Linked DNA regions of Homo sapiens: region 1 is linked to region 2. A link means that fine-mapping ties the variant in region 2 to the expression of a gene that starts in the linked region. Tissue or cell type: neutrophils. Region 2 holds a variant in brackets; the other region holds the start of a gene. All regions are shown on one strand. Distances are from middle to middle.

Region 1 (8,108 bases), 33 kb after region 2:
CCCTCACAATCAAATTGTCTTTTAATAAGTTTAACTGCTTATCTTCTGAACTCAGTGGATTGGCCTTATAAATGTGTATCAATTGTTTATGTGGAGAAGAGGAAATTATTGGTAAAACAAATACAATACCAAAAAAAGAGCTGTTAATGGCAGCTGGCAATAAAGATTCCCTGTGTGAAACTAATAAATGTCTCTTCTCTACCATATTACAAATTCCTTTGAAATCAAGGGCAATGGGCTTTGTTCTGACTTGTATTGCCCCTCCTAAAGCCATACCCTCACCTTCAAAAGTGTTTTTCATAAATAATTGTTAAACAGATTCTCAACTTCCTATGGGGCAAATTAATCTGGCTAATTATCCCGTTCCCATCAAACTCACTTCCACACTCTTACCATCATTAGTCCCACTAGTTCTCCTGTCTCTAAAACTAGAATTTTACCATTTTTAACTACCCTATCTCCTTCACATAATCAGTTGCCATCCTGTCAATTCTATACTCGAAATTTGTACATATCCAAAACTTGTATAAATCCTCTCCTACGTAGTTCCACTGGGACACAGCATAGCACTGCCTTAGAGCCAGAAAAATGTATGATGGTGGATCTTAATCTAGCTATGCTATTTTAGGAAAGTCACCTCATCTCTCAGGCTCAGTTTCCTTATCTATAAAATGTAGATGACTACCTTTGAAAACTCAGCGTGGGCCCTGCAGTGGCTCACGCCTGTAATCTTCGCACTTTGGGAGGCTGAGGTGGGAGAATCGCTTGAGCTCAGGAATTCAAGACCAGCCTGGGAAACATGGCAAAACACCGTCTCTACAAAAAAATATGAAAATCAGCCAGGCGTGTTGGTGCACAACTGTAGTCCCAGCTACTCGGGAGGCTGAGATGGAAGGATCGATTGAGCCCTGGTGGGAGAAATTGCAGTGAGCTGTGATCGCACCAGTGCACTCCAGCTTGGGTGACAGAGCAAGACCTAGTCTTAAAAAAAAAAAAAAAAACTGATGGAAGGACCAGAGATGATTTACTTAAGTTATCAAAGCCCACTGTGTCTGGCACAAATTAAGCATTCAATAAATGTTAAACAATGCTTACTGCCCATTGGCTAACTCAGGTTTTCATAACATCTCACTTTTTCTCTCTGATTTTGTCACCTCACCTCTATTTTCTCTGAACCATTTTTTTTTTTTTTCTTTTTGAGACGGAGTCTCGCTCTGTCACCCAGGCTGGAGTGCAGTGGCACAATCTCGGCTCACTGCAAGCTCTGCCTCCCGGGTTCACGCCATTCTCCGGCCTCAGCCTCCTGAGTAGCTGGGACTACAGGCACCTGCCACCACGCTCGGCTATTTGTTTGTATTTTTAGTAGAGACAGGGTTTCACCATGTTAGCCAGGATGGTCTCGATCTCCTGACCTCGTGATCCGCTTGCCTCGGCCTCCCAAAGTGCTGGGATTACAGGCATGAGCCACGGCGCCTGGCCTTCTCTGAACCATTTTAAGTATTATTGATCAAGTAATCTATCTAATGTATCTTACTAATTGTATGATTCGCCTGCTCAAAAACTACCCATTTCCTACAAAATAAAGTCCATAATTTTTATTTATTTATGTATTTATTTATTTTAAAAGACAGAGTCTTGCTCTGTCGCACAGGCTGGAGTGCAGTGGCGTGATCTTGGCTCACAGCAACCTCCTCCTCCCGGGTGCTAGCAATTCTCCTGCCTCAGCCTTCCGAGTAGCTGGGACTATAGACGCACACCGCCACGCCCAGCTAATTTTTTGTATTTTAGTAGAGACGGGGTTTCACTGTGTTACCCAGGCTGGTGTCGAACTCCTGACGTCAGGCAATCCACCCACCTCAGCCTCACCAAAGTGCCGGGATTACAGGCGTGAGCCACTGCGCCTGGCCTAAAGTCTGTAATTCTTTGTCGAGCATTCAAGGAGCTCCATGATCTGTCTTTGAATTGCCTTGGGTGCCACTTCACACTGCTACTTCAAGCATACCCTAACAGACGACTGACTACCCCAGTAGAATGCCCTCCTTTCCTAACTACAACTGTGAAATATTGCCCCTTTCACCAAAGACCAAGTTCATAAGCCAAACACCTTGATGAAGTCTTTCCTGATACACTCAAATGAAAAGTTATCTCTGCCTCTTCTGAAATCTTGTATCTTTTATTTATACCCACAAAGGGAGCTAGTTCTAATACGTCAGATACTGATGGGCATTTTGTAAACTAAGATGATAAACCCCAACGAATTCACACTGTGCTTCTTTATGTGATCATCACATTCTAACTCAAATCACAATTTTGTGAATCTAATCTCCAATACTGAGTTATAACTTCTTGAAAACAAACATTTCAATATTTCGTATCACCCACAAACCCCTACTTCCTCCTTCAAGACTTGATTTAAATGTGATCTCTGCTAAGCCTTCCCCAATCACCCCAGAAGAAAGCATTTACCATCTGCCCTATGCTCTCAAGGTATTCAATGTTTACCTAAGAATGAATAAAAGAATAGAAATACATGATAAACTAATGAAGGCCAATTTTCCTAAACTAGAATAGTACTAAACTAATTCATCACATGCCTCTTTCTCTTTTTCCTTTTTCTCTTTCTTCCTTTCGAGACAGGGTCTCACTCTGTTGCTCAGGCTGGAGCACAGTGGTGTGATCTTAGCTCACTGCAGCCTTGAACTCCCAGGATCAAATGATCCTTCCACTTCAGCCTCCCGAGTAGCTGGGGCAACAAGATCAAACCACCACAACTAGTTAATTTTCTTTTGTAGAGACAGGGGTTGCACTGTGTTGCCTAGGATGGTCTCAAACTCCTGGACTCAAGCAATCCTTCTGCTTCCGCCTCCCAAAACGTTGAGATTACAGGCATGAGCCACTGCGCCAGGCTCTTTCAGTTTTAACTGTTCTCTATTTCTATACACCATAAGTTTGTTCTGATCCAACTACTGCCTCCATTGAGGGTTTTCTAAATCTCGGCTAGAATGTTAGATATAGTCATTGAACAAACAGTGCTAACTGACCCACATTAAATGTCAGACCATAAATTAACTGTCAGTAAGAAATGCTAACTCAAAGTTCTCCAACTTTTGACTTTTACAAACCTATAAACCATTCGTTAAATTAGATCACAGCTGTCAACTTTTTATTTTGCCAAGTAAAGCATTATGATACAATCACTACCCACTATCATTACTATCTCATAAAAGAAAGAACATTTTAAACATTTTCCATTCAAATATTTATTGAGCACCTACATTTTGCTAATACTGTCCTAGGCACTGGAGATACAGCTGAGAAAAAGAGAAATTATATCTGTCCTCAAAAAGCTTGATACAAGAGCACACTTGATAAAAATAAAAGGAAAAAAATAATCTCCAAAGAAAGAACAGTTCTCTAAATTAAGCTTACATTAAGACAGAAAAATGTGAAGTTCGTTTTTTTTTTTAACAATTTCTCCGTAGACTTCATTCAAGTTCATTTTTGGTCTGCTTTCAGGAATCTTTAGTTAACCAGCTATGTTTAATCTACATATTGCAGGGCCAATTGTACATTAAGGGGCGCTCAAGTAGTTTTGTACAGAAATATTACTCCACAACATTCCACCTCCAACCTCAAAGGAGATGTCTGCTGATGAGTTTAACTATAATTCTCTCAACTCTCCCCTCTTCGCAAGTATTCTCCGTGAATGCATCTCATTCCTAATGTGTGAAATCTCTCCGAGAGACAAGTATTAAAGTTTCAGGCCAAATCGGAGAGCACCGTAATCCTAAACCAAGTAAGTGTCACAACTGGGGAACATAATTCCCGACAGAAAAGAGGCCAAAGAGAAAGGATTTAGAAACATCGTGATTCGGAAACCACGAAGCCAACGTAAACTGCTCAGACTCCGGCACTACTGTCAAACACTACTGGCAAACCAAGACCCCTCCCAAACGCCATCTGAGGTAAACCTGAGAACCCTGATCCTTCTCAAGGCCCAAACCTGACAGGAAAAATAAAAAATAAAGCCATGCAAGCAGAAAAGCCAACTCGACCAAAGACACGGAGGGCCCAAGTTAAAGCAAGGAAATGAAGGGGCTGCTGCAGCCCTCCCTCAGACGCGATGCTCACACAGCTCGGGGGAGGGTGTCTGTGTGTAAGCGAGAAATTAAAGAAGCAATCTGCAGAAGGAAAAGTGGAGAACGCCTAACGGTTTTTTTGTAAAGATCCCAAGTCAAGAAGCAGCGTCAGAATCAAGTCGCCAAGCCTTACCTCAGCGCTCGGGTGTTTAAAAGTATCTAAAAATAACAGCTCCATCGCCGAGTCCACCGCCATGTTTGCCGCGGGCGGGGAACAGGGGGGAGGACTTCCGGGGCAGCGCTCCAGCCTCCGCGACAGCGACTCAGGAGAGGGAGAAACAGAGGGACTTCCGGTGACCAGAGCACTAGCGCCGCAAACCTCGGCCTATCCCAACGCATCTTGTTGCCCGGAGTTGCCGGCCCCGCCTTTTCCAGCGCGGCGGAGGGCGCCCCCTAGAACGCAGAGGGGGGGCAGAGGGAAGTGAGATGGGGACTACGGGGTCTCCAGTGGTTCAAACCCTGTCGTTCCTCCGCGTTACAGAGCTACAGCGGTCTCCGGGTGGCGAAGTGCGGAGACGGGGTTTTGGAGACGGTGGATGGAGGAGGGGGAGGGAAAGCTGCCAACTTTGGATACCAACCCCGTACACCCACCGAAGGGGATGTCCCACTTTTTCCAGCGCTGGGAGCAAAAAGATAACAGTGAGCGAGGTTGAAAAGTAAGACATTGATTTAAATAGAAGAAAAACTGTTGTTTCAACCAACGAAGAGATTCTTTGTTTTCTTATCTGTAAAATGTGAAAAATCGTACCTAACCTACAGGGTGATTGTGAGGAGTAATTGAAATAAAATTCGAGGAATTGTGTAACGTGAAGTACCATGAACAATAAAACAGGAGGCAGAATGAAAAGTAAGCCTCTCTGTCGGGTGTTGATGAGCTTTGGAGCAACGAGATAAACTCAGCGGGTTTGGTAGTCTAAATGGCACAAACCCTTAGCAGAGCAACTAGGAAATAGCTTGTAAAATTACACGTGCCTACCACTCTTCTAGGAAAATTCTCGCCCACGTATCTACAAATACAAGAATATTCATAGCAAACTTTATAAGTTGCAAAAGAGCAGGAAACATAAGTGCCATTGACAGAAGTAATAAGTAAATAGTGGCGTATTTATATAATAGTATATAGCAGGTACGAAGAATGAACCAGTGCTATGTTTACTAGCATGAAAAACCCAAAAAACAGGGTTGGTGGGCGCTTTGGCTCACGCCTGTAATCCAGCACTTAGGGAGGATGAAGCGGGAGGATCGCTTGAGCCCAGGAGTTGGAGAACTGCCTGGGCAATATAGCGAGACCCCGTTATTCACAAAAAGAAAAAAAAAAGACACAAACCAAAACAAAACAAGTTTAACTCCTCTCATCGCAAGCCGGGTGCGGTGGCGTGTTCCTGTGGTCCCAACTTCTCGGGAAGCTGAGACAGGAGAATCTCTTAAGCCCAGGAGTTGGAGGCCAGTGGGGACACCCATCTCTTAGAAAAGGAAATAAAAAATATATAGTGTAAAATAACATCTATATATTTAAAAACGTGCAAAAGAATATAAAATTTTAGGAGTGTACATATGTCATGAAATTATAAAGTCATGTATTGGAGTAACTAAAATTTCAAGATAGTGGTAAACTGGAAGGAGATGTAATGGAGAAGAACAGAAAGGCTTCACATGCCTTGGTAATGTTTTGTTATTTAGGTTAATGTTAATTTCACAAGCATGCCTTATATTATTGTTTGTACCTTCTGGTATGTCTGAAATATTTAATAATAAATGAATTTCTAAAGTAAATCTCCTCTCCACATCCTTCCTCAGCCATCCAGTTTCCTCTATTAGCTAGCTATAGTTTATCTTTTATTATTTGTTCTTGCATTGATATTTATTGCTTTTAATATTTTTCTGTTTTCTGATTCTTGCCTCTTTTTTTTTTTAGAAACAGGGTCTTGCTTCGTTGCCCAGCCTGGTCTCAAACTCTTGGCTTCAAGCAATCCTCCTGCCTCAGCCTCCCAAAGTGCTGTGATTATAGGCGTGAGCCACCGTGCCCCCCCCCTTCTTCTGTGTTTAGGCTTATATGCTGTTCTCTAATTTCTACCACTGATGTTTATTTTTATTCATATTTCTTATTTATTACTATATGTATTTATATAAATTTTCCCCTAAGCTCTCCCTTAACCAATGTACTATATAGTGCTTTTATAGTTGTCATTTTTACAGTCTGATTTTCTTAGCATTGATATCCTTTTTTTTTTTACATTTTTATTTTTATTTCAACAGTTTTGAGGGAACAGGTGATGTTTGGTTGCATGGAAAAGTTCTTTAGTGGTGATCTCTGAGGTTTTGGTGCACCCATCACCTGAGCAGTGTATACTGTATCCAATGTGTATGTAGTCTTTTATCCCTCACTCCCTCGCCCACCCTTCCCCGCCGCCAGTCCCCAAAGTCCATTATATAATTCTTAGGAGTTTGCATCCTCATAGCTTAGCTCCTGCTTAATAGTGAGAACATGCCATGTTTTGTTTTCCATTCCTGAGTTGCTTCACTTAGAATGATGGTCTCCAGCTCCATCCAGGTTGCTGCAAATGCCATTATTTTGTTCCTTTTTGTGGTTGAGTTAGTAGTATTCCCATATATATTCCCATATATATATATATATATATATATATATATATATATATATATATATATGTAGTATTCCCATATGTATATATATGTATATACACCACATTTTCTTTATCCACTCGTTGGTCGATGGGCATTTAGGCTGGTTCTGTATTTTGGCAACTGTGAGCTGTGCTGCTATAAACGTGTGTGCAAGTGTCTTTTTCATATAATGACTTCTTTTCCTTTGAGTAGATACCCAGTAGTGGGATTATTGGATCAAATGGTAGTTCTACTATTAGTTCTTTAAGGAATCTACATACTGTTTTCCATAGTGGTTGTACTGGTTTACATTCCCACCAGCAGTGTAAAAGTGTTCCCCTTTCACCACATCCATGCCAACATCTGTTTTTTTTTATTTTTTAATTATGGCCATTCTTGCAGGAGTAAGGTGGTATCTCATTGTGGTTTTGATTGGCATTTCCCTGATAATTAATGATGTTGAGCATTTTTTCATTTCTTTATTGGCAATTTATATATATATATATATATATTTGTTGTTGTTGTTTTGTTTTGGTTTTTGAGACGGAGTCTTGCTCTGTTGCGCAGGCTGGAGTGCAATGACTCGATCTTGGCTGACTGCACCCTCTGCCTCCCTGGTTGAAGCAATTTTCCTGCCTCAGCCTCCTGAGTAGCTGGGACTGCAGGCGTGCACCACCACCCCCAGCTAATTTTTGTATTTTTAGTAGAGATGGGGTTTCACCATGTTAGCCAGGCTAGTCTTGAACTCCTGGCCTCAGACAATGCTCGCCTCGGCCTCCCAAAGTGCTGGGATTATAGGCGTGAGCCACTGTGTCCGGTGAATTTGTATATTTTCTTTTAAGAATTGTCTATTCATGTCCTTTGCCCACTTTTTGATGGGATAATTTATTTTTTTCTTGCTGATTTGTTTGAGTTATTTGTAGATTCTGGATATTAGCCCTTTGTTGGATACGTAGTTTGTGAAGATTTTTCTCCCACTCAATGGATTGTCTGTTTACTCTGCTGATTATTTCTTTTGCTGTGCAGAAGCTTTTTAATTTAATTAGGTCCCATCTATTTACCTTTGTTTTTGTTGTATTTGCTTTTGGATTATTGGTCATGAACTCTTTGCCTAAGCCAGTGTGTACAAGAATTTTTCCTATGTTATCGTCTAGAATTTTTAGTTTCAGGTCTCAGATTTAAGTCTTTGATCCATTGTGAGTTGATTTTTGTATCAGGCACAGATGGGGATCCAGTTTCCTTCTTCTACATGTGGCTTGCGAATCATCCCAGCACCATTTGTTGAATAGGGTGTCCTTTCCCCACTTTATGTTTTTGTATGCTTTGTCAAAGATCAGTTGGCTGTAA
Region 2 (8,108 bases):
ACAAAATTTATTAATTTCTAAAGGAATGAAACCCAAGGGGAGATATTTTGCTGAGTGCCTTTTCCTCTAACATGAAATTTTAATTCTGTCAACTTCCAAATTTGCCTTTATAAAATTACTATCACCCCAAAAGAATGACAGCAAACTTTGTTTATAGAATAAACACAAATACAATCTGCCATTTACTGCAAACAAACTCAAAACTCTCCCAGAAGCTATACCATAACTCCTATATTCTATCACCAAAAATGTTTCTAGAAAAGCACTCCAATGTAAAAAGTGAAATACCAGTTCCAGATGCCATATAGGAAATAGAAAATAGTAGCCAGGTCTTTCCTTGGTTCTACACTCCTCCACCAGAATTACAGCTGTACAATTTTCCCCATGCATTTTAAAATTAAATCTTTCTTATATATAGAATATATAGCTCAAAGATATAAGAAATAATAATAAAACAAATACCAGAATACCCAACACCCAGAAAAAGTACTAAAGCACTAATAATACCTTTGAAGACACTGTGTGCCCTCCTTTTATAAACGCATTCTTCAGGAAAAAAATCTATTCCCAGAATGGGAAGTTGAGTTTACTACCCAACTTTTACTGGAGCTATCACAAGTAAAATTTAGGATTAAAAAGAAAAGAAGAGGCCACATGCTATTTTAAAGCATTTTTACAATATTTACTCAACGTTATCAAATTTTCTACTTGATAAGGTCAGAAAACGAGGAACCAAAATAAAATAATTTAAAACTTATGATTAGGTATATTAAACTTGTCAAGGCTGCCCACATAAGGTTTCCCATAAATGTCATTCGATACACATTTATATACTTTAAAAAATAATATTCATATTTACTATTATTTACTTTTGAGGATAGCACAAATGTGTTACTCCACAACTAGATTTCTAAGTTGTAGTTTGTGTTTTATGTAGAAATACATACACAGCAAAACACACAAAGGAAAACTATACCCAAAACTAAACTTTTGAGTCTTTTTTTTGAGATGGAGTCTTGCTCTGTTGCCCAGGCTGGAGCACAGTGGTGCAATCTTGGCTCAGTGCAACCTCCACCTCCCAGGTTCAAGCAATTCTCTTGCCTCAGCCTCCCGAGTAGCTGGAACCACAGGCGTGTGCCAGCACGCCCAGCTAATTTTTGTATTATTAGTAGAGATGGAGTTTCACCTTGTTGGTCACGCTGGTCTTGAACTCCTGACCTCAGGTGATCCACCCGCCTTGGCCTCCCAAAGTGCTGGGATTACAGGCATGAGCCACCGCACCCGGCCTTGAGTTTGTCTTTAAACTCTTCCATTTTGATTAGAAATTTCAACAAACCACCAATTTTCATGACTTTCCAGAAAAGGTACTTGTAAAAACTATTTTGTTTATATACTAAAACATTTTATCAACCTTTAGTTTTTATAAACTGTCTTCATAAAAAGTAATTTCAGGAAGTTAAAAACAGTATTACTAGGTATATTATCGAAACATGATGAAGGACTAATTACAGATATTCAAAGGTTTGTTCCTTCACATATTACAAATGCTTAAAATAACTTTAAGTACCATACCTTGCAATTTAGCATTATTTTCATCTGCTTTACAAAGCTTCAAGAGAGATGCTGCATGTTGTTCTAGCATTTGAACATCACTGGAAGACTGAACCACCACCAAAATAAGTATGCATGCGTAATTATAAGCTACTGACTTCTTAGATTTGGAATCACTGAAACAAAATAAGGTTTTTAAGTTTTGGATACAAAAACAATTTTTTAGGAACAATTTTTAAAAATTTTCTTCTACTTGGCTTTAAAGAGATCAAGGACATTTACAATAAAACATGACTAACTGTCTGAAGACAAGAAATCAGATTTTACAGTTCATATCCAATTCACCTGAAACCATTACTTTACTTAAAAGTATATAAAAAAGCATACATATCACCATGGAAAGTAAAATTCTATTAAGAAATAAGATCAGAAAAACAATGAAATATTAACAAGTATACTTCATTAGTAATGAAAGGTTAGGAAGTATACTTCATTAGTCTCCTTCAAAATATTTGTCCAATCTGGATAAATAGGAACGAGTATGATCACCTGCCTTCAACACTCAGTATTCCACTATAAACCTGTTAAGATACAGCTAGGCATGAAAGTCATTGCTGTTTGCTTTTCATAAGCACCCCACAAAAGATCTGTCACTCAAGGAGTTATACACCCAGTCCTCATAGTGAGGGCAGTTATCTGGATGCCATTTGCCTTGTGTGACATGAACCAGAAATAAGGCATGTCTTTCTTCTCATATAATAAAACCCTCTGCCTTACCAAGAAGGCTCTTCAAACCATTATCATTCTCAATTTACCCATCTAGTCAAAGCAATTCTGAATCCAGAGCATGGTTTAGAATGCAAGGGCAGGAGCCAGCAAGAAAGTGTAAGAGGAATAAAAGGAATATATACCTTAAGGTACGTATTCCTGTGCCTTAGAATTCCCCTCTGCATAAAACAGCAGGGGGTACTACAGTTGCAATCTTTAACACCATGGGTTAACTGAAGGAAGGTGCTAAAGAGTCCACTGTATTACTTTATAGCCACATCTTATATTTTAGAGATTTCTGTCACTCTAACCTTTAATTAACAAGTTTTGTGTTATATCAAAACTATAGTTTTTCCCTCTCAAAATAACACCTTCTTTTAAGAAACTAGACCATTAGTTAATCTGATTTTCTAACATCATAGAAAATTTAAGGAGTAAGTAGGAAATTACCCCAAGGCTTCTTTGGAATAGTACTCCATTAGAGTAATAAGACTTTGGAGATTTTTCTCCAGACTAAAAACATGGCCAACAGCTGATCTTCCCACAGGATTAAAAGTAATCAAATAAAGATTGTGCAGGGTTCCCAAGAGATCTGAATGGTCTGTTTCTTCACTGGCTGTACAACGCTGAAAATGGCTGAACAGTTCTGTAATACATTGCAATGTCTGTGTTGAGTCCTGTAGCCACAAGGCAAATGCATCATCAATAACACCATCAGATTGGAGACCTTCCTCCTCATCTTGATCATAAAAGTGACACAGAGCTCGGATCAATAAATTTGTTGCTTCATATTCCGACATAAAAAAAAGAAGACCCTTCTGTGACTGTGCAAGAAACTTCAAAACATCTTTTGTGGCTTGCAGCACACCAGGGTGAGCACTTGTTACTGGAATTGACAGAAGCAAGGTAACCAACTCCAAGAAGTGATGACTGTGAAGATATCTGTGGAAGAGTTAATTGATACATGTCAAGTCAGTGCAAAGCATTCTTCATTTACTCAATATTCAGACAAGACACTGATAAAAATTTTTAATGACCATAATCCTTATCCTCAGTAATATACTGCTTTAACTGAAAACATAATGTGAGTGGCAAGTCTTCTCTAGATGAGGCCAAATAAGAGTGAATGTTCTGTGAGGCTTTGTCCTAGTTAGCACTCAACAGATGTTAAATAAATAATTATTGACAAGCTTTTCTTTAAATTTTGGGCCTTCTTTCCAGGACACTTATCAAATGCTCCTTTTTCACCATGGTCCTACTTTATTCATGGCATATTGGTATATTTAAATTCATGTATCTAGGAAAAATATAGTATATACAGTCAGCACTCCGCATCTGCATTTGTGGATTAAGCCAACTGCAAATCGAAAATATTTTTTAAAAGTGCATCTGATGCCAGGTGCAGTTGGTCACACTTACAATCCCAAGCACTTTGGGAGGCCGAGGCAGGCAGATCACTTTAGGCCAGGAGCTCAAGACCAGCCTGGGCAACATGGCAAAAACCTGTCTCTACAAAAAATACAAAAATTAGCCAGGCGTGGTGGCGCATGTCTGTAGTCTCAGCTACTGAAGAGGCTGAGCCCAGGGAGGTCAATGCTGCGGTGAGCCATGATTGCTCCACTGCACTCCAACCTGAGTGAGACCCTGCATCAAAAAAAAAAAAAAAAAAAAAAGCCTGGGCTGGCTGTGGTGGCTCACACCTGTAATCCCAGCACTCTGGGAGGCTGAGGCTGGAGGATCACTTGAGCGCAGTAATTTCACACCAGCCTTGAGCAATATAGTGAGACCCTGTCTCTAAAAAAATTTTTTAATTAGCTGGCCATGGTGGCCCATGCCTGTAGTCCCAGCTACTTGGGAGGCTGAGGTGGGAGGATCGCTTAAGCCCAGGAGGTTGAGGCTGCAGAAAGCCAAGATCATGCCACCGCACTCCAGCCTGGGCTAGGTGAAAGAGCAAGACTCTGTCTCAAAAAAAAAAGACAGAAAAGAATGTATCTGTACTGACCATGTACAGACTTTTTTCTTACATCATTCCCTACACAATAATAGTATAACAACTATTTACAGAGCATTTATATTGTACTATGTATTATAAGTAATCTAGACATGACTTCAAGTATACAAGAGGATATGCATAGGTTATATGCAAATACTACATCATTTTATATTTTATATCAGAGACTGGAGCATCCTTGGATTTTGGAATCCAAGGGAGGTCTGAGAACCAATTTTGCAGACAGTGAGGGATGACTGTACTATAGAAAAATATAGTATACTCAGATTTACTACAGTAGACTGAATTAGTATCTCTAGGGAAAAAGCTTTCAAATTGTCAATTTTTAACATTTAAGCAGTTAGTATTACCACACATAGCACTCTTTTATGAGACGAAATCTAGCTATGTTGCCCAGGCTGGACTC[A/T]AACTCCTGGTCTTAAGCAATTCTCTGGACTCAAGTGATCCTTTTGCCTCATTCTCCCTAAACTCTTTTCCAAAATCTACTTTTTTATCTCTTTTTTTTTTTTAAATTTTTTAGTTCTGGAGTACATGTGCAGAATGTGCAGGCTTGTTACATAGGTAAACGTGTGCCATGGTGGTTTGCTGCACCTATCAACCCATCACCTAGGTATGAAGCCCACATGTATTAGCTATTTTTCCTGATGCTCTCCCCCAACCCTCTGTTCTCCTTCAACAGGCCCCAGTGTGTGTTGCTGCCCTCTCTGTGTCCATGTGTTCTCACCGTTCAGCTCCCACTTGTAAGTGAGAACATGCAGTATTTGGTTTTCTGTTCCTGCATTAGTTTGCTGAGGATAATGGCTTCCAGCTTCATCTATGTCCCTGCAAAGGACATGATCTCATTCCTCAACTTTTTAAAAATGAAACTTAACCAGATTTTAAAGAAAAAAGAACCAAAACATCGTATTTTTTCAAATACTCAAAAATGGGGTAAAAATCTGTCAAAACATCTCTTGACTACAAGATAGAACCAGCTTAATGAAAACTTCTTAATTTTTAATTATTAAGAATATCATAATTTTCTGAAAGTTAAAAAGAATAAAATTATTTATAATTCTGACTCATTCTCTTCCATTTTAGTCACTGCAAATGGTAACACAATAGCTTTCATAAACCCATCAAAATACTACTAAAAAGTAAATGACAGGCCAGAACTTAATTTTGTCAAAAGCTGAAACTGCTTCTTCAGTCCTATTACTATTTAAACCCAGGCTTCTACTTCACAATAATAAACACCCACCAGTAACTGCTTACTACAAAGGCAAACAGAACCTTCAAGAAGACAAAACTCCAGAATTACTATGCTCCAAGAGCATCCCCCTTATGGACCATTCAGAGAATGGTTAAAATAGCAAGCCTCAGACTGCACATCCTTAGAGGTCTGCTTGCAAGGTTGGCTACTGGCTAACTTCTGGGAACTTAGATTTCAAGAGGATTCCCGCACCCCTAACTGATAAGAATGGTTCCTTGTGCCTAAATTATTTGTGCAAACAATATGGTTATGCTGAACACCTGCTTTCCTTCTAGGAGTCTGGAATTCTGGTATAAGATAGGCAGTGAGTGCCTACATGACTACCCACAATAAAAAAATTTGCATGCCAATTAGCTTGATATAATTATTCCACAATGTATACATGTATCAAAACATGTCACTGTTGCTATTTAAAAATAAAAAATAAAAAAGCCTGGGTGCCGAGTTTCTAAAGAGCTTCCTCAACAGGCAACACTTCACACATGTCACAACCTGTTGCTGTGAGAATTAGGCAGGCACTATGTGACTCCACTGTGAGAGGACTCTGGAAGCTTGCAACTGGTTTTCCCAACTTCCTCCCAGGTACCTTTTTCCTTTGCTGAGTATTATATGCTGAGTTTTGTGAGTCCTCCTAGAGAATCTTGGTGCTCTTGGGGAACCTGACATAGGACAATAGAGCCTTGCCACCACTTCAAAAACAAACCCTCCAAAGTACAATTATTTTTCCTTTCAAAATTCACTCTCCTTCCTAATTTACCAGTTTCTGTCAATAAAACCACAGCTCCAATTGCTACCCTGGCTAGAAATCTCTAGCTTCTTCTCACTTCCCTTCGCCTACTAGGTCCTGTTGCCAAGTCCTAGTACTATTATATAATATAATGGCTATTTCACAATCTCTGTCACTATAAGCACAATATTTGCCTTTCCATTACCTGTTAAGGGCAAAGTACTTAAAACCCAGTACCTAGAAACCTCAGACTATCTTATCTTCCTAGTAACTCTAATTTCTTTTCCATTGCAATACATCTTGCAACACAAAATCTGAGAATATTACTCTGATCATATCAGATCTGCTACTCCAAAATATTCAATACCTTTCCATATTCTACAAATAAAATCCAAATTCCTTAGCACAACCATTCTGGGCCCTTTATTTCCTCTTGTCTGATACCCAAATATACCTCCTCCATATGGTGGGAAAAAAACACTCAGTAAGTATTTAATTACTAGCTTCTTCTCAGTGACTGAAAACATCACCTATTCTACTAAAAATAAAGTTGTTAGTAAGAAGTATTTAAATTTCTTTACAATCTCCAAGACTACAAATGTATTATATTTGCATACTTACAAGATTCCCTTTCTCCTGCCCAAAACCAAACTCCTACACTTGTACTCTTGTCCTCATCTCCCACCAAGCCTTGCCCCAGGAATTGTTATTGTTTACTCCTACATCATAAACATCTCCCTCTCCACTGACTTTTTATTATAAATGAGTCATTATTCCCAGCCTACAAATATGCTCAAGCCTCTCCCACTCCTAAAAAATAAAAACCTTCCTTTTTGACTCCAACATCTCCTTCTAGCTGCTGCCTTGTCTCTTACTTTTTCTCTTAGCCAAATTTCTTGTTTTGAGACACAGTCTCACTCTGCTGCCCAGACTGGAGTGCAGTGGCACAATCACAGCTCACTGCACCCTTAACCTCTCAGGCTCAAGCAATCCTCCCACCTCAGCCTCCTGAGCAGCTGGGACTACAGGCGCACACTACCATTCCCAGCTATTTTTTTTTTGATTTTTTATTTTCTGTAGCGGTCTCCCTATGTTGCCCAGGCTGGCCAAATTTCTTTTTTGAGACGGAGTTTCGCTCTTGTCGCCCAGGCAGGAGTGCAGTGGCACGATCTCGGCTCACTGCAACCACTGCCTCCTGGGTTCAAGCGATTCTCCTGCCTCAGCCTCCCGAGTTAGCTGGGATTACAGGCATGCACCACCACACCTGGCTAGTTTTTCTTTTTTTGAGATAGCATCTCACTCTGTTGCCCAGGCTGGAGTGCAGTGGCCCGATCTCGGCTCACCAGAACCTCCAACCTCCCGGGTTCAAAGGATTCTCCTGCCTCAGCCTCCCAAGTAGCTGGGTTTACGGGCACATTCCACCAAAGCCCGGCTAGTTTTTGTGTGTGTCTGTGTGTGTGTGTGTTTTTGTTACTTGTTTATTTATTTTTTTGAGACGGAGTTTCGCTCTTGTTGCTTAGGCTGGAGTGCAATGGTGAGATCTCAGCTCACTGCAACCTCTGCCTCCCGGGTTCAAGCAATTCTCCTGCCTCAGCCTCCCAAGTAGCTGAGATTACACCCATGCGCCACCATGCCCCACTAATTTTGTATTTTTAGTAGAGATGGGGTTTCTCCATGCTGGTCAGGCTGGTCTTGAACTCTCGACCTCAGGTGAACCACCTGCCTTGGCGTCCCAAAGTGCTGGGATTATAGGCGTGAGCCACCATGCCTGGCCGGTGTTTGTTTGTTTGTTTGTTTGG

Direction of the effects. Alleles are on the strand shown, and positions count from the first base shown. SD is a standard deviation of normalised expression in the study named.
For the expression in neutrophils of the gene that starts at base 4,357 in region 1, A is the high allele of the variant in region 2 and T is the other (large effect, 0.78 SD a copy in BLUEPRINT).

The links. PIP is the estimated chance that this variant, and not a neighbour inherited with it, causes the effect.
Region 1: it holds the start of VIRMA, and the variant in region 2 is fine-mapped to the expression of VIRMA in neutrophils (BLUEPRINT, PIP 0.95).

The regions. Positions count from the first base shown.
Region 1 is chr8:94,549,113-94,557,220 of GRCh38, forward strand. It overlaps VIRMA (vir like m6A methyltransferase associated), which reads right to left and starts at 4,357. Exons shown (of 24, transcript NM_015496.5): 1 at 4,273-4,357. The coding sequence starts at 4,335. VIRMA-DT (VIRMA divergent transcript) reads left to right here and starts at 4,601. Exons shown (of 2, transcript NR_183271.1): 1 at 4,601-4,795. RefSeq lists an enhancer at 4,051-4,670.
Region 2 is chr8:94,516,216-94,524,323 of GRCh38, forward strand. It overlaps VIRMA (vir like m6A methyltransferase associated), which reads right to left. Exons shown (of 24, transcript NM_015496.5): 9 at 2,770-3,261; 10 at 1,573-1,727. Among named protein-coding and RNA genes, the nearest start is that of VIRMA, 33 kb to the right of the region's middle. The variant A/T (reference allele first, on the strand shown) is at 4,737.